Homo sapiens: one gene and its partners. The protein of the gene in region 1 interacts with the protein of each later gene in a pairwise test. Each region holds a gene or a part of one and is shown in the gene's direction. Other genes may lie near its edges.

Region 1 (7,064 bases):
ACTCAACTGATGAGAACAGAAGAGTGGGGGTAGCTTTACTATCATTGTTAAACCTGTAATAATGGGGCTTTTAGTCCTTATGTGCTGCAGAGTGAATCAAACAAGGTAGATTAATAGAACAGTTATACAAAGGAATTAAGCATTTCTTTAAGGACTTTCTGATTACTAGGAGAAGAGTGATGGATTTAATTACAGGGGAGGAACTGTTAAATGATGATTGCTACTTGCTGATATTGGAAGAGGTTTGAGAATGACTCGAGTATTAAATTCTGAAAGATTTGACTAGACTCAACGGGAGGCATGCTTTCAGGTGGAGAATGGTGTTTCTTGAAATAACAATATTTTGATGTAGTTGGACTAGAAAATGAGGTCAGAAAAATATAATGAGACCGATCGTGGAAGGCTTTGTTGTTCACACTATGCACTTGATCCAGGAGGCAACTGGAATGAGTTGAAAATGGTGAACAGGGAATTAATATTTTCAGGTTTGTACTTTAAAAGATTTCTGACAGAGTACAGAATCAGTTTATGGAAGGCATGACTGGGACCTACTAGGGGACTGTTCTAGTAATCTAGGAGTTAGATGATAAAGATTCAAATGAAGAGGGAACCAATGATAAAGATTGAATGAAGAGGGAACCGAGGATGACCAGAGAAGGGAAAAAAATGAAATTGAGAATGCAGAATGGAAAGATTAGCTTAGAACAGTAAGAGAGGGATACTTTGATTCTTAAAATTAGAGAATAGTTAAAGAGGGGGGTTGTTATGAGACTTCTCATTCAACAAATATATATCGTTTATCTACTCTTTGCTTAGAGTCTTGGGGAGAATGATGATCTTGGGGAAAAAATATTGTGAGGAGTAAAAATTTATAGGAATCTGTAAAAAAAAAAAATTGAGTTACGGCTGTAGTCAAAATCTGTTGATATTTTCTAATAAGCCCTGAATAGTTCATAATAGCCGCAGAAAAAGAAGCTTGCTTGATCCATGATAGAGGTTGACATGGGATGTGTGTCTTGGAAGAATATTCATGATATTGATGGATTTTGGTAGTGCTCTATGGGTTTTGGCCTGATAGGAGAGGTGGGTTGGGAAAGTGGTAATCAGCTGAGAGAAAAAGGAGTCTTGAGGAGCCTAGAGATAGTTAACTTATTGGTGTTTACCAAGTATATTTCAAGCCAACATCCTAGTTATTTTCTCACCCATAGTCTACTTTAGTCTACTTGGGAGAAAACCTAGGATAATAGGATTTTAAAAGAAGTTATTGTACTTCAAATATGCCACATAAAGTATTATTTTTAAAACAGTTTCTGTCAGAACAACATTTATGCTTTTAAGGATGGGATTAGATCTGATTATATTTTTGTGTTTGTAGTGCTATATAAATTGGCATCAGCTGAGTCTTCTAATGCATTCATAAATTGTGTTCATTTGTTAGAGACAAAAAGAAAGAAGACAAAGAAAAGAAACGTTCTAAAACACCACCAAAAAGTTACAGCACAGCCAGACGTTCTAGAAGTGCAAGCAGGTAAGGTGGCATTGTGAATTCTTGGCAATTATTTTTTTAACTTTGCTTCTAACAGTATCAGTACGCTGTCAGTATGAAGTCTTTTCCAGAACATAAGTATTTCAGTGTTGAAAAAAGTTACATTTTGCTGTTATTTAAAGTTTTTAAAAGGCAATTTGTGAAGAATAATGTAGTTTATTTTTCTTTTTACTTAATATTTTATGGTCTAGAGTATATTTGAAGTAACATGGAATTCAAGAGAGGTGAGTTTTTCTCTTTATAGTTTAAGTTTTAATGGCTAAACCATACTGAATTGTTCCATTAAGTAAGCTTATTATAGTAAGCTATATTTATCATCTGCATGTTAGTACTTGAGAATTTTTCTATCCCTTTTAATGACTGTTGAATTAATGGGAAGCAATGCAGGTTCTGGTTTGTGTCATTCTTAGACTAATTCTATCTTTAAGCTGTCAGTGAAAATTGAAATGTTGCAGACCTTACTGCACAAAAAGCACATTTTCATACTTAATTTGGGATTTATATGATAGTAAGGGCTGGACTTCATTCCATTTTTCAGATCTCATTCACATGTTTTGCTGCAGTGCTTGTTTTATTCATCAACATTACTTAAATTCACTAGGAGAAGGTTCATGCCATATAAAAAAAAATAACTGAAATGTATAAAAGACCTAAATGTAAGAGCCAAAACTATAAAACCTTTAGAAAGAAACAAAAGTGAATCTTTAAGACCATGAGCTTGGTGGTTTCCTAGATATGACTTCAAAAGCATAAGCAACAGAAGAAAAGAAAATTTTGGAATTCACCAAAAGTTAAAACATTTGTATTTCAAAGGATACTATCAAGAAAGTAAAAACCTAGAGTGCTAGTTAGAAAATTCTTTATATATTCTCTATTAAGAACTCTTAGAACTCAGCAATAGACAGGCAACCCAATTTAAAAATGGCAAAGAATCTGTAGCCATTACTCCAAAGGAGATATGCAAATATCTAGTAAGTACATAAAATCTGTTCAACATCATTAGTCACCAAGGAAATACAAACCAGACCACAGTGAGATATGTCACAGTCACTAGGATGGTTATAAATCAAAAAGACAGATGATAGCTGAGCCTGACAGATGATAGTAAGTGTTGATTAGGATGTGGAGAAATTAGAACCCTGTGCATTGCTAGTATGAATATAAACTGGTACAGGTGTTTTAGAAAACAGTCTGGCATTTCCTAAAAATGTTAAACATAGAGGTTTTTGACCCACCAGTTGTACCCCTGGGGGAAAATGAAAACATTTTCACAGAAAAACTTTTATGTGAATGTTTGTGGCATTATTTCATAATAGCCAAAAAGTTAACTATCCATTAACAAATGGATAAACAGAATGGTATATCTATACAATTGAATATTTTTCAGTGATAAATAAGGTTGATACATGCTACAGTATGGATGAAACTTGCAAACATCCATGAAAGGCCGTGTATTGCGTGATTCCTTTTATATGAAATGCCCAGAATAGGCAAATCTATAAAGATACCAAGTAGATTACTGATTGCTGGGGAGATAGGGAGGATTAGAGTGATAACTAAAGGGTAGGGAGTTTTTGGGGTGGTGAAAATTTTCTTAAAAACTAAATTTTTAAGCATGAAAATGAAACCAAATGTAAGTACAGAAGGAAATGCTGAATCAGGCCTGAGGGATAGGTGGCAAAGAGATAGAAAAGATGGAAGGTACTACATATATTTTCTTACCTTAAAAACTGTTGAGGATTTTTTTTTTTACCTGTTGCTTTATATAATGTACTTGTAAGTGCCTTCTCATGCTGTATTATTGGATCACTCTAAATTAAGGCATCTTCTGTGAGTTATTAAATACCCACTGTGTTTGTAGTTGTGCTACAGTCTGTTGAAGGACACGGAAATGTAATATAAAATACTTCTTCCGTCTAGAGAATTTGGAGTTTCAGTTACATAAGACAGTAGCAAAAAGTATAAGGTGCACAGTCGTGACAATGTTTGATAAGTGAATGCTCAGTTATGTGTAACGTTTCCAGGACAAGGGTCACAGAGGGCTGTGTAAGTAGAAAAAAAGCTTCATTTGGAAATTAGACAACTAAGTACAGGGTTTTTTAAGTCTGATAACTTTTGAGAATCAGGAACAGAATTTTTTTTTTTAAGTTACAGTAAAAAGGAGGGGAAGGCTGTATATCAGCTGTATATCTTCAAAGTAATTGGTGAAAGCAGGGTTTTGGGGGACTGCAGGAGGGCGATTTTGCTAGAGTATAAGGTTTCTACCTTTCCACTAACTAGTTCTCTGAATTTCATCTAATGATTTAAAGGTGAATGTGGGGATATTTTATTAGTAACTACCTTCTATATCACATTATTGAATTATTCTGTACTTACTCTGAACACTGAATGTTTGAACCAAAAACTAACTTCTTCAGTAATAGTTTACTTCACACGTCACCCCTCTCGCATTAGTTTTGTTAAATCAGTTTTTTCTCAAGCTTAGTATTTCTAACATTTTGTCATCAATTAAAAGAATTACTAGAAATTAGGAGTTTTCTTGAGGGTAGTAAAGGGAAAGATTCATGGTTTGCAGATGATTATATTACTCATTTAATTGTTTAGCTTATACCAGTATTGTGAAACAATCTTTCATTTTTCTGTTTTTTTGAGACAGGGTCTCTCTCTGTTGCCCAGGCTGGAGTGCAGTGGCCCTATCACAACTCACTCCAGCTTCAACCTCCGCAGGCTCAAGTGATCTTCCTGCCTCTGCCTCCTGAGTAGCTGGGACTACAGGCATGCACCACCACACCTGGCTAATTTTTTTGTATTTTTTGTAGAGACAGAGTTTCACCATGTTGCCCAGGCTGGTCTGGAACTCCTGGGCTCAAGCAATCCCCTCACCTCAGCCTGCCAAAGTGCTGGGATTATAGGCATGAGCCACTACATCTGGCCACATCTTTCATTGTTAGAATCATCTATGATGTGTCTGCATTTTTAAGATCACACTGTATTTTAAAACCTAGTTTGCACATTTGTGATTCTAGAGAGAGACGACGACGAAGAAGCAGGAGTGGCACAAGATCTCCTAAAAAGCCTCGGTCTCCTAAAAGAAAATTGTCCCGCTCACCATCCCCTAGGAGGTAAGAATGTTAATCATTTAAATGTATTTTTTATATTTTTCAGAGGTTTTTCATTTTAAAACTGTCCTGTAGTTTTTCTTTTCAGCAGTTACAGTTCTTAAGAATGTTTTAATGTATTCTCCTTCTGACTTGTGACTTAAACACCATTAAGGACTGAACATTTTAGTCCTATAAACAAGTTAGTTTTGTAGCCTGTGTTACTTCTCCAAGGTTTTGAAGTTGGATCTTTGCTGTACTACTTATATCCTGTGAAATTGAGTCAGGCTCATCATCTAAACAAGTTAAACCTGTTGCTGTACATTTTACTGTCATTCTAGACATAAAAAGGAGAAGAAGAAAGATAAAGACAAAGAAAGAAGTAGGGATGAAAGAGAACGATCAACAAGCAAGAAGAAGAAGAGTAAAGATAAGGAAAAGGACCGGGAAAGAAAATCAGAGAGTGATAAAGATGTAAAAGTATGTTTACAAATTGATTTATTTTTATATTTGGGGTGATGTTGGTACTTTCAGAAGTTATTTTTCTTTGGAGAAGTTTACTTTTATTATTCTCCTTGGCAAAGCAGGTTACACGGGATTATGATGAAGAGGAACAGGGGTATGACAGTGAGAAAGAGAAAAAAGAAGAGAAGAAACCAATAGAAACAGGTTCCCCTAAAACAAAGGAATGTTCTGTGGAAAAGGGAACTGGTGATTCACTAAGAGAATCCAAAGTGAATGGGGATGATCATCATGAAGAAGACATGGATATGAGTGACTGAATATTGCCTCTGAGGGAGTCCAACTGTATACCTGCATCAGTGTCATTCCTTTGTGTGATTTCTTAATGCTGTATTTGTTCATCTCAAACCTAGATGTATACAGCTCTGAGTTATAAATGGTTATAAAGCTCCTGTTACTCATATTAGTTATTTACATCAAAAAGCTTTTAGAAAATGGTACGAGGTAACCAATTCTTGTCATGGTGAAATCTGATTGAGTAACCAAGCAGTTTTACTATTCTGGTGCTGCTTCATAACAAAAATGAAAAGCTGCATGCATCTACAGCAGGCATGGATTGTTTATGTCGTATGATATCCTTTATTAAGTAAGTTCACTTATAGTATTTCTATAATTTGATTCATTGCCGTAATAGAGCCATGTAGGAAATGCACTGATTGCATGTTATTGTGGCAAGAATATCCTAAATGTCATTAAAATCCTCCAACATGATGGATCTACTTATGGTCTTGTTTGTTGACATGACAAATTAACATTCTTATAGTTACATCTGGAAATGAGCATTTGAAATAGATAATCCTTTAAGCCTTGTGGCAAAATTTTTGTGGCTTTTGTTTAACTTTGAAAGGTTATTATGCACTAACCTTTTTTGGTGGCTAATTAGGGTTTAAATACAGAAACAAGATTTCAAATAAAACTGTCTTTGGCAGTGAGTAAATAGCATATTTTGAAGTAGAGTTGTATACTTTTTCATAAGATGTTTGGGAATTTTTTTCCTGAAGTAATAATTTATTCCACATCTACATCAGTGAAAGCTATCTACCTATCCTGAGTCTATCTTAAAGGAAAAAAAGAAAAAAACCTTATCTCTTGCCCTTATTTTGAATTTTCCACTCTTTCATTAATTTGTTTTAAGCTCCGTGTTGGAAAAAAGGGGTAGTGCATTTTAAATTGACCTTCATACGCTTTTAAAATAAGACAAATCTACTTGATAATGTACCTTTATTTGATCTCAAGTTGTATAAAACCAATAAATTTGTGTTACTGCAGTAGTAATCTTATGCACACGGTGATTTCATGTTATATATGCAAAGTAGGCAACTGTTTTCTTAGTTACAGAAGTTTCAAGCTTCACTTTTGTGCAGTAGAAACAAAAGTAGGCTACAGTCTGTGCCATGTTGATGTACAGTTTCTGAAATTGTTTTACAAGACTTTGATAATAAAACCCTTAAACTTATGTTCATGTTCCTGTAAAACCGTATTTGTATTTATTTACGCTACTGAATGTATGACATTTACCTCATTCATTTTACAAATTCTTTCCCTTTCTGTCCACATATTTCAGTATAGTAAAAAGAGGAAGTCTATCACTGTAGTGATAATTGCCATCAAAATTGTCAAAAATGATTTAATTTCTATCCAAAATAGTCCTTTTCTTAGCTTAGTATCATTTTATTGCTTATTTTTTGTGTGGGAATGGGGTTGGATAAAGCAATGAACTTTAGTATAAACAAATCCCACCTATATCTAGCAAATTTATATTTTCGGTGAAATACAGATATTTGCCTTTCTGGAGTAGTATAGAAGCTGTCAATATGTATCTACTGTACAGTACTAAATAGTATTCATTTATGAAATGAGTAGTGTTTGGGTGGCTGGGGTTAAGGGAAAATGAGACT
Region 2 (7,014 bases), on another chromosome or scaffold:
AATTGGTCAAGTTTATACAACCAGTAAATGACTGGGTTTGTATTTGACTCCAAGACCATGCATCTCACCGTTATACACCTCTGGTACCAGCCACTGCTCTGTTACCCACTAGGAAGTTAACAGAAGGCCCGTAGTCATGGATCTTGGGCATATCATGGTAGTGGGCCCTTGATATTTCCTTTTAAAAATGATTTTCTTTTTCCAAGCTCTACTACAAATTTGAATTTTCCTTGCCGCAACTATGCGCCTTCTTCATTTCCTACGTCTCCGTTCAAGACCCACCTCTTCTTACGAGCTTGATGTGGCTACTCTCTCAACACCTGTGCTGTTTCTATGCCACAGAGCTAGTGTTTCCTTTGTACTGCCTCTCATTATGTACAGTTGTTTCGTGGTCCAAATTTTCTCTCATCAATGAGGACAGAATGACTTTCTTTTCATATTTCTTAATCAGATCACTGTGTCGTCCCTAGTGATCTGATACATAGTAGCTATTTATTATTTACTGATCAGTTTTAGTAGAGAAAATTTTTAGATAATCTTAACAACAGATATTTTGTCATTTTGTTTCTTATCCAGTGATACTGCTTAGCTGTTAATCATGTATTAATGTGACATACTTACCTGAAGATAATCAGAATATAAATTGTTGGGTTTGTTTATTTTTTTAACATCTGTTTTTGTCTGTCTCATTTTTAACTTGGCAGCCACACAACAGCCACTTAGTTTACCAGAAGGAGAAATCACCACGATTGAAATTCATCGGTCCAATCCTTACATTCAGTTAGGAATCAGCATTGTGGGTGGCAACGAAACACCTTTGATTAACATTGTCATCCAGGAGGTCTATCGGGATGGGGTCATTGCCAGAGACGGGAGACTTCTTGCTGGAGACCAGATTCTTCAGGTATCAGTTTTAATTATTCTGTTAACTTGTGCCTTTTTGTTCCATTCTTAACACTTAAACCTTAGAAAATTGTGCTGTTTTGGAACCTAAATTATATATAGATTAGTTTTACTGTTTCTATATGCAAAACATCAGAATTTATGTGTAATTTGTGGTATTTTCCCATATACACAGAGTATTTTTTCTTCCTATCTTAATTTTCATTCCTGCATGCGATGTGGCTTGGCACATGATCTCAGGCTTGCTGAGCTAGCTAGACTCTTCCTTGGGCTGACTAGCCTCTTCCTGCTTGGACTTCTTGAATGACTGTTCAAGGGTCACCTTCATCCATGTTGAAATTATCATCTCATTGGTATTATTTTATACCCAGTTTTCCCATTCATTACCTTCATTGTTGGATTTATCCTTTTCTATACAGACTACTAAAATCTAGAAAAGAAGGAACCATGCAGCACTCATAATTTATACCACAGATTATAAGATAGAGTTCAGAAATCTTGCAGTCATCTCCTATCAACTCCCTAATGCACTCTCCTCAGCAAACACTCTAACTCTGCATTTTCAATAATCCCCTTCGCTCCCCTTACTGTTTTCCCTTTCAGAAGATGATCTTTAAGAAGAAACAGGTATTCTCCAGAAATAACTAGCATGGGACAAGATATTTTATTAGAGGGCAAGTTGAGATGAGGGGAGGAGGATGGTAAGAGTTCTACAATCCCGGAGTTGATGTTAATACCGGCCTGGACCATTTTCATCATACAAAGGTGATAATAATTGAAGCTTAAAAACGGATAACTTCTAGGAGAGAGAGGAAATATTCATGAACAAGAAAAAATGTCTCCTGTCAACCCAAGCGCAGGGACTCCTCTCTCTCCTTGGATTTGTGGTTCGGTCCTTCACCATGACCTGTTGATATCTACCCCCTACTTCCATTTTCCTGCCACTTCTTGAGTCTAGGACTTCTCTTCTTCATATCTAATTTAGTAGAATACCCCATCATATACTTCTGCCTCCCAACTCTCCTCCCTTAAATCTGAAACAATCACTGCCAGGTTAATACATCAGTAACCCTGCTTGCCTTGCAAAGGTTCAACTAGGAGGTCAAGTCCAGACTGATTAATCTAATAGTCAGGGTCCTCCACGGTCTCTTCTACAACCTGTCTTGTTAATCTCAATTCTTCATTTCAGGCACACCAGCTCATTCATTTCTCACAACATTCTAGGCACTATACTAGTTGCTGGTGGTACATTTCAGAGCAAAATACTGACCTGTCCTCGTGGAATATACAATCTAGTGGAAGAGCCAGACATAGCAGTCTTCTTCCTTCCCTGCAAACACCTTATTCCCACATTGCAGCCTGTCCTCATCTCATGAGCCAGTTTGTTCACCTTCATCCTTAAAGCTTTTGTTCAGCCATTCTCCCCCATACTGATTCCTCCTACATTAGTTATTATTGGCATTCATCACTTTTCTCTTCATCACTTGGCACGTGATGAGTTACAGAGAATTGTTTGAACATTTTACGTATGTAGGCATGATCTAAGGTAATTGCAACCACCCTAATGGTACAGATTATGATACAGATTTCTCATAGCTTGTAGTAAGTGCTCAGAAAATATTTGCTGAGTCAATAAAAGAGTGAATTTGAATATAAGATGCTGTTGGGAATAGCCATCTCCTTTATTAAAAGAAAAACTTGGTTAGGATTTTTAGTTGTTGAAAAGAAATCTCTAGACTTGGGGCTATGGGAGTCTACAAAGGCAGCCAGGATTGACCCTACTAGGGATTCTTGGGTTTGATTTCCACTCCCGCTTGTATGCTGCTTTTCATGGTGTATTATTCCTGAAAATAATTAACACCAAGCCTAAAACCTTTCCTTCATTACCCCTAGGCATGGCTGAGACAGACTGAGCTTTCAAACAGTGTTTTTTTTACCAAATACTTAGATGTAATAGACGAATACAGGAACATAACTAATCCAGCTCATATAAAATCAGATTTCTGATCCTGTCATAGCTAGCTATTTAGTTATCCTAGCTGCATTTTATGATATTAGTACTTTAGCTGCACAGGCTGGCACAACTTGTAGGACCCCTTGTATTATTTACATCCTAGCTCCTGACTTGATTTTGCAGAGAGCGACTCTTACAGCTCATTTCCCAGGTTCATCCTCCCAGACATCTTGACACTTTGGTGGTCAGGACCAGGAAGGGCAGATAGTCCTTTTCTGCAGCCCACTGAGTGTTCTTTGACTCTCCCACTTCTGGGCTTTTTAGCTGAAATGTAAGTGTACACTTATTTTTTGCTACTAGCCCAGTATTGTTACAAATGTTTTTATTTATATTTCTTTGAATATAACAGATTTGTTTAAGTTTTTTTACTAATACATTTCATCAGTGGGCTTGTTTCTATTTTAGAGAATGGTTCATTAACACTACTGAATCTTTAGACCTCAAAAGATTGTAATTATCTGAAATTATCAACCATATTTTTGGGAATTAATTCAGTTATAAAGTCTACATTGTAGAAATTCCACTGCATTATTACTGTTTATGGAAACCTGTATACTAATAACTCCAATAATGGCAATCTTACATCTAGTTTAATGATTCAAATTGATAAGAAAAGTCTGAGCACATAATCTGATTAATGAATTCACAAAGGGTCTCTCCTATTATAGGCCCTGACTTCTGGTTGGCTTTTAACTGGTGTGTTGGAGCCAAGTAAAGCCACCCCCCTTTCCCACATATGGACTATTTATGGTTATTCAAGAGTAAACACTTGGAAAGAGGCCTATTGGTATTTTTTACTATCTGGTTACCTCCAACTTTGTATAAGCTAAATAAATATAACACAGTGAGCCAATTTGAAAATCTCGAAGAGGCAGTAAGATGGTTGATTTGCAGACCAGAGAGCTAGCTTGCATTTTCATTTTTGCAGACCATATACATAAGCAGTGTGTGGCTTTGGTGGTTTTCCCACATTTATATATATTTATTTACATATACAAATGTTATTAAATAGCCTCTTTGAAAAGGAGAACCATATGCTGTTAGAGCTTTTTGCTACTCTTAGAGTTTCATATGCAGCCTCTTTGAGCAGTTTTGAAGAAAAAAAAATACTGCTATTATAAATTACCTCAATATCATTAATAAAAGTAATATAACTTAGAACATTATTAAGAATAAGTATTTTCAGTTTAATGAAGTCATCAATAATGGCATTTTCAGTTCTGAAGGAAAATAATTACAGCTGTTGATTGATAAAAAAATACATTTAGCTCAAAAATGAGATAGTTTGCTATGCTGATGTTATTTTTACAAAATCTAGAAACAATATTTTATTTGGTTTCTGCTTTCTCTGAATTTCACTGGCAACCATGCATTCCTGGAGGAAAAATCTTTTTCCAGTTGTAGAATATTCCCCAGCCTGCTTCACAAAGATGTTATGAGGCTGCATGTTTACACATGGCTGGATTTTAGCCAGACGTTTTGTAAAGTCATTTGTGATATGTGTGATATGTCTGAATATAAGACAGAAAAATGTGAACCTACAGGTAGGTAGCTTTGTAGCTAAATAGTTGGAAATGGTGGTTTGACTAATGAATCTATATCTGCGTGGATTTTTAGAAGCTGCTTTCTAAATATAATAGAACTTCAGAAGTTCCATTCTTGACCCTGTATTATTCAATACTTTTACCAAGGACTTGGATGACTACCAAATTAATAGATGTTGCAGACTTGGGAGAAAGCAAGTTTGTGTGTGACATCTGTGCATTTGGTGACTGAATTCTGAAAGGTGTTAATAGGTCAAAATCAACAAAATTCAAAATAGTATTTACAACTATCAATCCTAAGTCAATAGGAAGAGGAAAGTCTTGCCTAATGTGGATTTGTGTGAAAAAGATGTAAGAATTTTAGGTGATCATAAACACCTAACTCAGAGCCTGTCATATAACAGATGGTCAGAGGATGTTGGTTTCATCTCAGACCGATTCAGAGAAGAACTCTAATTGTGATAAATGCTAAGAATCATGCTCATCTCTTGTAACTAAAGAAATAATTGAAGTTAGGTGTATTTTCTAAGTGCTGTTACATACCCAAGGATCAGTCACTATACTTTTTTTGAGATTATAAAGGTGAATACATAAATGTTATATGAGTATTGAATAATGCATTAGATATACATTATATTTTACTTTTAATGGTAAAAACCGTAATTACTTTTGCACCAACCTAATATTTCTGTGCTGAAGAATTAGAGTGAAATTACAATTAACCTGGTTTTCTTTCAGGTAAAAGTCACTTATCTAAAATAAGTTTGTATACCTGAAATGTGCTACTTTCCTTAAAATAACAATTTATTTTCTCTAGCTTAAGTGTATTTAATTTGGAAGAAGCAAATTTGTAATCTAGTAAAACTTAAATTTCTGTTCCACTAGAATTAGTATTTATTTCATTAGCACTTGCCCCATGTTAATCTGTTCATTCTCATACTGATCCCATGAAGTAAACACATTTTACAGATGAGGAGACTCATTCAGACAAGTTCTATAATTTGCCTAAGTTATCAGTTAGTAAATGGTAGTACCTAGGACTCTAATTCAAGACCGTCATTAAAGCCCGTGATCCTAGCTACTATTCTCTCCTTGATGCTAGTCACTGTAAGTTAATATTAGAAACTCTGTTTTTAAATGTCTTTAATGTGGTTTTCTTTGTAAATAATGATTGTATAGCATTCTCACCATACTTAGCACTCTCACAATACTTAGTTTCCTGTGGAAATGTCACATAAACATTCCTACAAATTGGAAAAATAAAAGGTTGTCACACTTCGGTCACAATTCTTTTTTTCTAGGTCAACAACTACAATATCAGCAATGTGTCCCATAACTATGCCCGAGCTGTCCTTTCCCAGCCCTGCAACACACTGCATCTTACTGTGCTTCGAGAGAGGCGCTTTGGCAACCGAGCACACAACCATTCTGATAGTAACTCTCCACGAGAAGAGATTTTCCAAGTGGCTCTTCATAAACGGGACTCTGGTGAACAGCTTGGCATTAAATTGGTGCGAAGGACAGATGAGCCAGGGGTTTTTATTCTTGACCTGTTGGAAGGGGGGTTGGCTGCCCAGGACGGCAGGCTAAGCAGCAATGACCGAGTGCTGGCCATCAATGGGCACGACCTGAAGTATGGAACTCCGGAGCTTGCTGCCCAGATTATTCAGGTAAACCCTCTTGGCCTTCATTCCAAAGGCTTGGCCGAAATGATCATATAGTAGTATTTGTTTTCACTGGCCAATAACATCAGAATTCAGGGGACATTTTATATTTCATTAGAAAATCGGGTGTGGCTACCTGAATTCTTTAAAATCCACACTAGTATAACTTCATTGGAGATAGTCTTTTCTAAAAACTATATCCCTGTGAATTTTGGGGATGGTTATTTACAGAGCGTAGGCTCTACTGTTTCACATTCATTTCTCATTTGGGTCCTGGGTTCTACTATTAAGCCAGATGTAGCAGATGATATGTCCACCTTTTAGAAGTGAGGAAAGGGAGGCTCAAAAGAGCTGTGATTACCAAGGATCTGACTTACCTGGTCTCTTAACTCCCTGTCAGGATCTATATAAATAGAGGAAGAATAACTCTTATCTCTATAGTGCTTTGTTGTTGTTTCTAAGGAATTCACAGTGTTTAAAATACATGATAAAATTTGTCCTCATAGCATCTTTGTGACATAAGTAAGGATAGTCATTATTAGAGAAAGAACATGTTTTTCATAAAAGCATGAAGATGGATAAGTTGGAAAGTCATCCAGAGGAGATCTATACATTCTGCAACATGCCATAGCATTTAATGATATGAGCAACTTCTACAGTGATAAGGGTGCAACAAAAAGATGTTTTTCTTAAAGTTAGCAAAACAAAACACTGTAAAGGAAACCAAGAATTATGTAATTGAGGATCAGGAAGTAGGGTAGGCCGATAGTCATTGAAGAATGTGTTTACAACACAGAATCAAATAACAATGAAAATTTAAGACTATAAGAAAATTCAAGTCTCAACTCTCTTTATTGTATTGAGAGGAGATTCTGATATTGGTCTAATT
Region 3 (7,014 bases), on another chromosome or scaffold:
TGCAAAACAGAGGGCGGAGGCACCAGGGAAAGGCACTTGAATGAAGAAGGAAAATGAGAACCAGATTGTAACTTCGTCCTAATCCACCTGCCAGAACTTTCCTTCAGGTGTCACACATCCATTTCCATCCTAATATTAAACAATATAATGAAAGAAAGCTTTACAACAAGTCTAAATAGTTTTTATTTTCGGGCAGTCTTTTAACAAAGCAAAGCAACCGTGTGAGTTAGGTCACCAGAGACACCAAGCAATGGTGAAGGACCCCCTCCGCCCAATTCTCTATCCAACTAAATTTCCATGCCCAAAGTGATAGCTATCATTTTTTCCACGGTGTATCTGCAAATCCACCCACTGTCCCGGGGTGGCTGGGAGCTTTTTAACGGGTTGAGAGTTGCTTTTTAAGGTTGTGGGTGAGCTGAGATGGGTGACTGTGTCTTCAGGAGACACTACCATTTGGTTTGATTTTGGTTTGATTTGCAGGTGTCATCAATAAACAGAGTTCTTCGCAACCTGGCTAGCGAAAAGCAACAGATGGGCGCAGACGGCATGTATGATAAACTAAGGATGTTGAACGGGCAGACCGGAAGCTGGGGCACCCGCCCTGGTTGGTATCCGGGGACTTCGGTGCCAGGGCAACCTACGCAAGGTAAAACCCAAGCAGCCATCCACGCAGCTCTCCATATGTGCATCCCTTTGCCTGTCCCCTACTCTCCCAACCATTTCCTCTCAGGGCTTCCATGCTTGGGGAATGTCATGGGTGAGACTGCATTTGAAGGCCTGGGACACATCGACCACATTGTATGTAGGTGGTGTTTGTTGAACCATTTTGTTGGCCTGGGAATGTGAGGGTTGTGTATGTCAGGAGCGGTATGAAGGTGGCTGGTGGGTGCGTGTGTGTGTTTGTGGGCAGCACTGTGTGCATAAGAACGAGCTGCGTGGTGCACTATTCAAATTTGACATTAGAATGCAGGGAGAGCCCCCTTGTAGAAGTGTGACAAGATAACGCACTGACAGACTGCGAGGTTAACATAATTGTATCCTGTTGCTTTTTGCTGTAATTGACAAATTATGTGACTATGAGTAGGGTGCACATGAAAAGGTGAGCAGGGAGATGCAGGGCGAGTCGGGGATGGGGCATTGGAAGTGGTGGTCTCCCAACTAAAACCACCCCACTATCCTTGCCCCTCCCCCGTTCGCCCCTCTGGGTCCCACTTTCTCACTCTCTGTGGGTGGCGACTATGTGGAAGTGGTGAGGTGAAGATACTGTGAGCAGGACGGCGGGATGCCGGGAGCCGCTCTGGTCTGGGAGGAGAGATGGGACCTGAAACACCCCAGGTTCTGTGAGAAGGGCTGGAGGAAGAAGAGCGGGGGATGGGGGGGGTGGGGCGGAGGGGAGGGTCAGTTGGCTCCCCTCCGCTCCCCTCCACACCCCGAGGTAGCTTGGTCAAGAATAGGAAACAGTTTACTCCGAAGATTAATCGGTATTTGTTGTCCTCGTGACAAGGAGATAATATGCGGGATAATGGGACGTGGCGTCTCACTCCCAGGAGCACAACGGAGCCGAGGGGCTCGGGGCCAGGGGCGGCGCGCGGGACTGCGAGGAGGCTGCCGGCGCATCCGTGAGCTCTCGGACCGGCTCCGGATGCCCGGCGCCTCCATGGAGTCGGGCGAGGGAAGGGAAAATCGGTAACAGTATGCGAAATATCTGGTACAAAGGATGCTTCTGTCACTCGCAAGAATTTGTTATGGGAACAATCCTGTCGCTCTGTAATTGCTCATTAGAGAACGTTTTGTTTCTCATTAAGGCGACATGAATAAGCGTCTAGTTGAAGGAGACAGCTGTAGAAATGTTCCACAAGAGACCTCTGGACACGATTCGGCACCAATTGCCAATTAGACATGTCAGTTTTAAGAGCAGAAAACAATATAGGACGGACACTGGGAAGATAGGGAGCAAAGCGCTCGCTTCTTGTTTCCCAGCGCGGCCGCTCGGCCGGCGGAGGCCTCCTGACGCGCGGGGCCCGGGCTCCCCTGGGCGACCCCGCCCGCACGGGCCCCGAACCCGCCGCCTCCGCGAGCTCAGAGGGCCCCCAGGCCCGCTCCCGCCTCTGGTGAGACTAGCGATTGACCCCACCGAGTGTAGGCAACCCCATCCCTGCCTGACTTTTGAAACCGTAGGATTCCCACTTGTAGACACTGGACACACCCAAGTGACACCCGAACTTCGCACTCACGAGCGTCCACCCCTCCGCCCCCAGCAATCTGAGGTCCTGGTGATCCCTCCCCTGACAAGAGTCTGGCCCACTTAGTCCGAGAAGTCTTGGGGAGGGACTCAGGGCACGGTGGCCTAGGCCTGGGAGGGCTGAGCCCAGAGCCTCCACTCCGGGCTCTCCCCGGTGCGTGGGCTCCCATGAGCTTGGGGCGCAGGATACACCCCCCTTCCGCTTCTTGGAGTTGGGCAGAAGCCGAGGACAGCAGCTTCCACCAGAGGTGGCGCCCGATTCGGGCGGATTTTCGTCGCCGGCAGTCTGAGGGCGGGAAGTGAGAGTCAAATCAGCTAGGGTCCGCCTGTGATGGTTGGGGCCGGAGGTGGAGCTAGTCCAGGGGCTTTTCACTTTAACGCGCCTAGTTGCTAGAAAATTCTGGGTCAACTGGCAATCACCACCCCCCCACCCGCAAGTGAGGTTTTTGGGGGGTGATTGTCACCTCAGGCACAGGACCGTCGCCCCTAGTTGCGTGGGGAGGACACGTGGGCCAAACGAAGCACAGAGTTGCCGGCGTGGGGGTAGCGGGCACCGGTGGTGAGCTTCGCTTCACGTTCCCGGGGAATCCTCAGACTTTTTGGTGCTAAGAGGGTCCCCCTCCCTCCCTAGCCCCCTTTCCCAGCCCAGGAAGCCTTTCTTGGGTTTTAAAGAGTCCATACTCCAAAAGCATAAGGCGGGGGTTAGGTCTCAGAGGGAGACAAATATGGTTTCCATCTGATCAACGCCATGCGGCGGTGAATAAAATCGCGACGACGTGGGCTGACAACAACAAGAGACAACTCTATCCAGCCCCAATTCTCCGGCGATTTGGTGGTTTTAGGGATCACGGAGACACTTTTTCTTATCTCCTCCCCTCACCCCACCCCCACCCCCCATAATACCCAAGCCCTCTATAGGATTTAGTCAGCCTCTCTTTCAACAGATGCTACAATGTTTTGATCCGCGCTCCAGAGCTGAAAAGGTGCCGCAACCGGGTTGCTATCTTTTCTTGCTTGTTTTCCGCCTCACTGATTAAGACACTAAGAAACTAAGGAATGATTTTATTTCCCAGCAACTCTCTCTCTGTCTCTCTCTCTCTCTCTCTCTCTCACCTCCTTCCAGGAAACAAATCCTATTCCCATCGTCAGATGGTCCTGGGGCTGGGATAATGGGAGGCGCTTTCACTCGCTTTCTCACGGATTAGGCTGGAAGGTGAACGGCACCCACTGAAGGCCCCTGCTTTGCGCGGCTCCGAGGGGGCGCCTTTTGAAGAAGATATCTTAATTGTCCACCACTTAGGTTTATCGTGGGGGTGGGGGAGTCGAGATCCAACTTCTAGTTTTATTTTGTTAAAAGCTTTAAGAGTGGAAGGCAAATCCACTAAAGTGGGGGGAAATGTACCCATTTTATGTAAGAGCAGCCGCTAGGTCACCGCCTGGCTGCAAACAGTTGCCACTTCTAAAGTAATGAACTGTCTCCGTGCCGCTCTCCCCGCGGGGTAGAGAAGGGATCCTGCAGCGACAGGTTTCTTTTTGCTGTGGAATTCCAATCCCCGCTTCCCATCTTTTTTTTTTTTTTTTTTTTTTCCAGATTTAAAATTGAGCTCTACTGTCCCTGCTGACTTTTCTCTCTTAAGTGTCAGTTCTGGAGGCAGCACAGGGCCTGGCGGCGATCGCGTGCTGCCTGTGTAAACCCGTGTGTATGTTTGTGTGAGACAGAACATGGATAAGAATGTGAATCTCCATGTTTTAAAATTAAGAAAATGTCAAAGAGGCAAATGAGAGCAGAGCATGCTATCGGCGGGGTTCTTCGGAGGCAGATTCGGGCAACTTTGTTTAATTGGCGAGATCGAATGTGCCAGAAAAGGGACCGAGATGGGGCCCCTAGGAAGGCATGGGCATGAGTGGCCATGGGGAGATGGGCATTGTGTTCTCCTCAGTGTCCCCCACCCCATACCAGATGTGCACAGATTTTTGTCTGTTTTCCAAAAGCAATAACCCTCCGGCCTTTCTAGTTGGCCAAAAGGAGCTATTTCCAGTCTTCCTTCTTCACCAAACCCGAAAATAAAGCGAGGGGTGGGGGTGGTCGCTTCATTTCTTCCCTTGAAAAACGCTTTGAAAAGTCCCCGGAAACTTGGGGCAGTAAATTAGCACAGACGCTTGTGCCCGCACACGTGAGCGGAGCGCGTCTCCCTCAGCTAAGTAGCCCTCCTCGACCCCCACCTTTCTGATGGAGTGCAAAGACCCAGAGTCCAGATGGGGCTCAGTTACTAATATTCTCTGGCCCTCATCCTCCTTTTCCTCTCTCTCCCACTCTTGTTCGGCCCTCGTGTCTCTTTTTCCTCTCAGCATTCTTTTCTGTCCTTTTTTAAAAATACCTTTCTAGCCTCTATGTTTTTTGAGCCTTCTTTTCCCCTCCATCGCCCTCTTTTTCCCTCCATCGCCCTCTGTCTTTCCCCTAACCCAGGCCCCCCAATCCTTCCCCCTTGCTTCCACCCCCACCGCTGGTTTCCATCCTGCCTCCCCTCCATCTCCTCTATGTAGGAACCCAGCCCTGGTCCCCGTCCACTCTCCCTGCCTCCCCCCATGCTGGGCCCTGGCCCCCCCATCCACCCTCCATCCCCCCAGCCAAGCGCCCTAAATAGCACGGAGGCGCCCGCTCTTCGGACAGTGATTAATGATAGCAGAGCAGAGGGGTTAACACACTTCACTGAAAAGTCTGTTGACTGGGCTTCTTGTAACACAATGTGGCCCGCTGCACGCCTCAAGAGAATCCTTTTGTTGTCCGCGCTCATTGTAGCCTCAAAATTCTGCCCACGAAAGTTTGCCAACGCTCCTGCCCCAGGAGTTTAATAGTTTCCCTTACTCGCGGGGCATTGTGCAGCGCTGAAAAGCAGCCCCTCGCTATTCAAGTGTTGGTGGTCATCTCAATAGATCTCCAAGGGCCCATATGGTGGCCAGTGCCGATGAATCCGCCTGTTTAAATGGGGGAGAAAGTTGGGGTTTTAAAACATTTCAAAGTTCCTGAAAAGATCCCACTAGATCCTGTCACAATTCCCTGAACTCTTTGAAGGCGCAGCCTATTGTCTCCTGGTTATAAATAATATTCCTGGCCAAGTCGATTCCCACCAAGGCGCTCCTAGGGGCCCCTCCACCCCGCCTCTGGCCAAGTTTTGAGGATAGGGAGGTGGGTAGCCCATGCTGGTATCCCTTGGGGGTCATTTCAGGACCCCAGACCCAGGACCCAGCCTGTAGTGGCCCTGGAGGCCCAGTCAGAGTTTAGGCAATCCTGCTTCCCTTCACTGTGGCCTTACAGGCAAGGTGCAAGCCGGGAGCCAGCTAGCCCAAGTGCACATCTTGCCCTCCAGGCAGCAAGGGAAAACCATAAAACTTTCCCCCTGTATAATGATAGAAGTTACATTCAAAGTGGTGGAAATGCCCTAATTAAAAATGTACCACTTAAATGATATGCCAAAGATTCAGCTGCAGCATAGAATATTTAGCTAGTTAGTGAACTCTCTACTATTTCTTTTTTAAAATTACACGTTAAAAATTTAAAAGAAATCTTACTTTTCTCTGGTGCAACACATTACAAAGAATGGACAGTCCTTTTATCTAAATATAAAATTCCATTTTCAGCAATTATAGCCTGTTCTTGGTGATGATATAATTACAGCTGTGCTCGTAATAGGTGTCAAGGCGAAGCGCACTCATACAATAGTTGAATAAAACTGCAGAACAATGCGAGCACTTCTAAATTCACAACCTTTAAATGAAATTGACTGTGCAGAATTCAAATAAAAACTAGATAAATATTTTTTAAAAAAGATTACAAGCTTGGTTTGGTTTCTTAATAGCATTTTCTACAAACCTATCAACATCTAATTGATTAGATAGGAATTACTGATTATAGATCAACTGAAATCTTGAACATCACTCTTCTATTTTCCCAACACAGCCATAGGTAAAGAGATTCTGTAGGGAGTGGAGTGAGGCATTTGGGGAGTTGGGGTTACTTATAAAAGATCATTTTAATTGGAAACTTCAGTGCTTATTTTTTCATTCAAGAAATGCCACTTAGTGTGTGTATTATAAAGTCTCATCTTGATAAAAACAAAGAAAATGGTGGTCAGGTAACTAACATCGCAAATGTATTTTTTTAAAAGAAGGCTGACAGTTACCTTGGGAATGTTTTGGTGAGGCTGTCGGGATATAATGCTCTTGGAGTTTAAGACTACACCAGGCCCCTTTTGGAGGCTCCAAGTTAATCCAAATTTCTCTTACCATCCTATTCTTTTTGTTCCAGATGGCTGCCAGCAACAGGAAGGAGGGGGAGAGAATACCAACTCCATCAGTTCCAACGGAGAAGATTCAGATGAGGCTCAAATGCGACTTCAGCTGAAGCGGAAGCTGCAAAGAAATAGAACATCCTTTACCCAAGAGCAAATTGAGGCCCTGGAGAAAGGTGATAGAGTTTTTCAAAGTAGAGAAGCAGTAAATCAAAGTAAATGCCACATCTTCAGTACAAAGAGCTAAATTTAGCCAGGGCCCTTTGCATAGAAGAATGAAAAGATTTCCTTTTTTCTGTCTTTTTATTTCTCTGGGCATCTTTTCAGTGTGTGTGTGTGTGTGTGTGTGTGTGTGTGTGTGTGTGTGTGTGTGTGTGTGTGTGTGGTGTGTGTGTGTGTGTTTCTTCTTTTCATCTACCAGTAATTCAAAGACTAAATGTCTGACTTATAAGGAAAAATGATGATTTGGCTATTTCAGGCCAC

Evidence for each region. The genes of interacting proteins can lie anywhere in the genome.
Region 2: the proteins of SRSF11 (region 1) and LNX2 interact in a two-hybrid assay, tested with the Homo sapiens proteins (3 studies listed by BioGRID and IntAct).
Region 3: the proteins of SRSF11 (region 1) and PAX6 interact in binary tests that used the Homo sapiens proteins (3 or more experiments, as listed by UniProt).

Annotation. Positions count from the first base shown.
Region 1 is NC_000001.11:70,245,380-70,252,443, forward strand, and holds part of SRSF11 (serine/arginine-rich splicing factor 11), read left to right. Parts: intron 1-1,438; coding exon 1,439-1,528; intron 1,529-1,737; coding exon of another isoform or gene 1,738-1,753; exon of another isoform or gene 1,754-1,770; intron 1,771-4,551; coding exon of another isoform or gene 4,552-4,572; coding exon 4,573-4,668; intron 4,669-4,985; coding exon 4,986-5,124; intron 5,125-5,228; coding exon 5,229-5,426; 3' UTR 5,427-7,064. UniProt on the Homo sapiens protein: May function in pre-mRNA splicing.
Region 2 is NC_000013.11:27,561,530-27,568,543, reverse strand, and holds part of LNX2 (ligand of Numb protein X 2), read left to right. Parts: intron 1-704; coding exon 705-904; intron 905-5,762; coding exon 5,763-6,131; intron 6,132-7,014.
Region 3 is NC_000011.10:31,794,323-31,801,336, reverse strand, and holds part of PAX6 (paired box protein Pax-6), read left to right. Parts: exon of another isoform or gene 1-107; intron 108-480; coding exon 481-646; intron 647-675; exon of another isoform or gene 676-798; intron 799-6,548; coding exon 6,549-6,707; intron 6,708-7,014. UniProt on the Homo sapiens protein: Transcription factor with important functions in the development of the eye, nose, central nervous system and pancreas. Required for the differentiation of pancreatic islet alpha cells.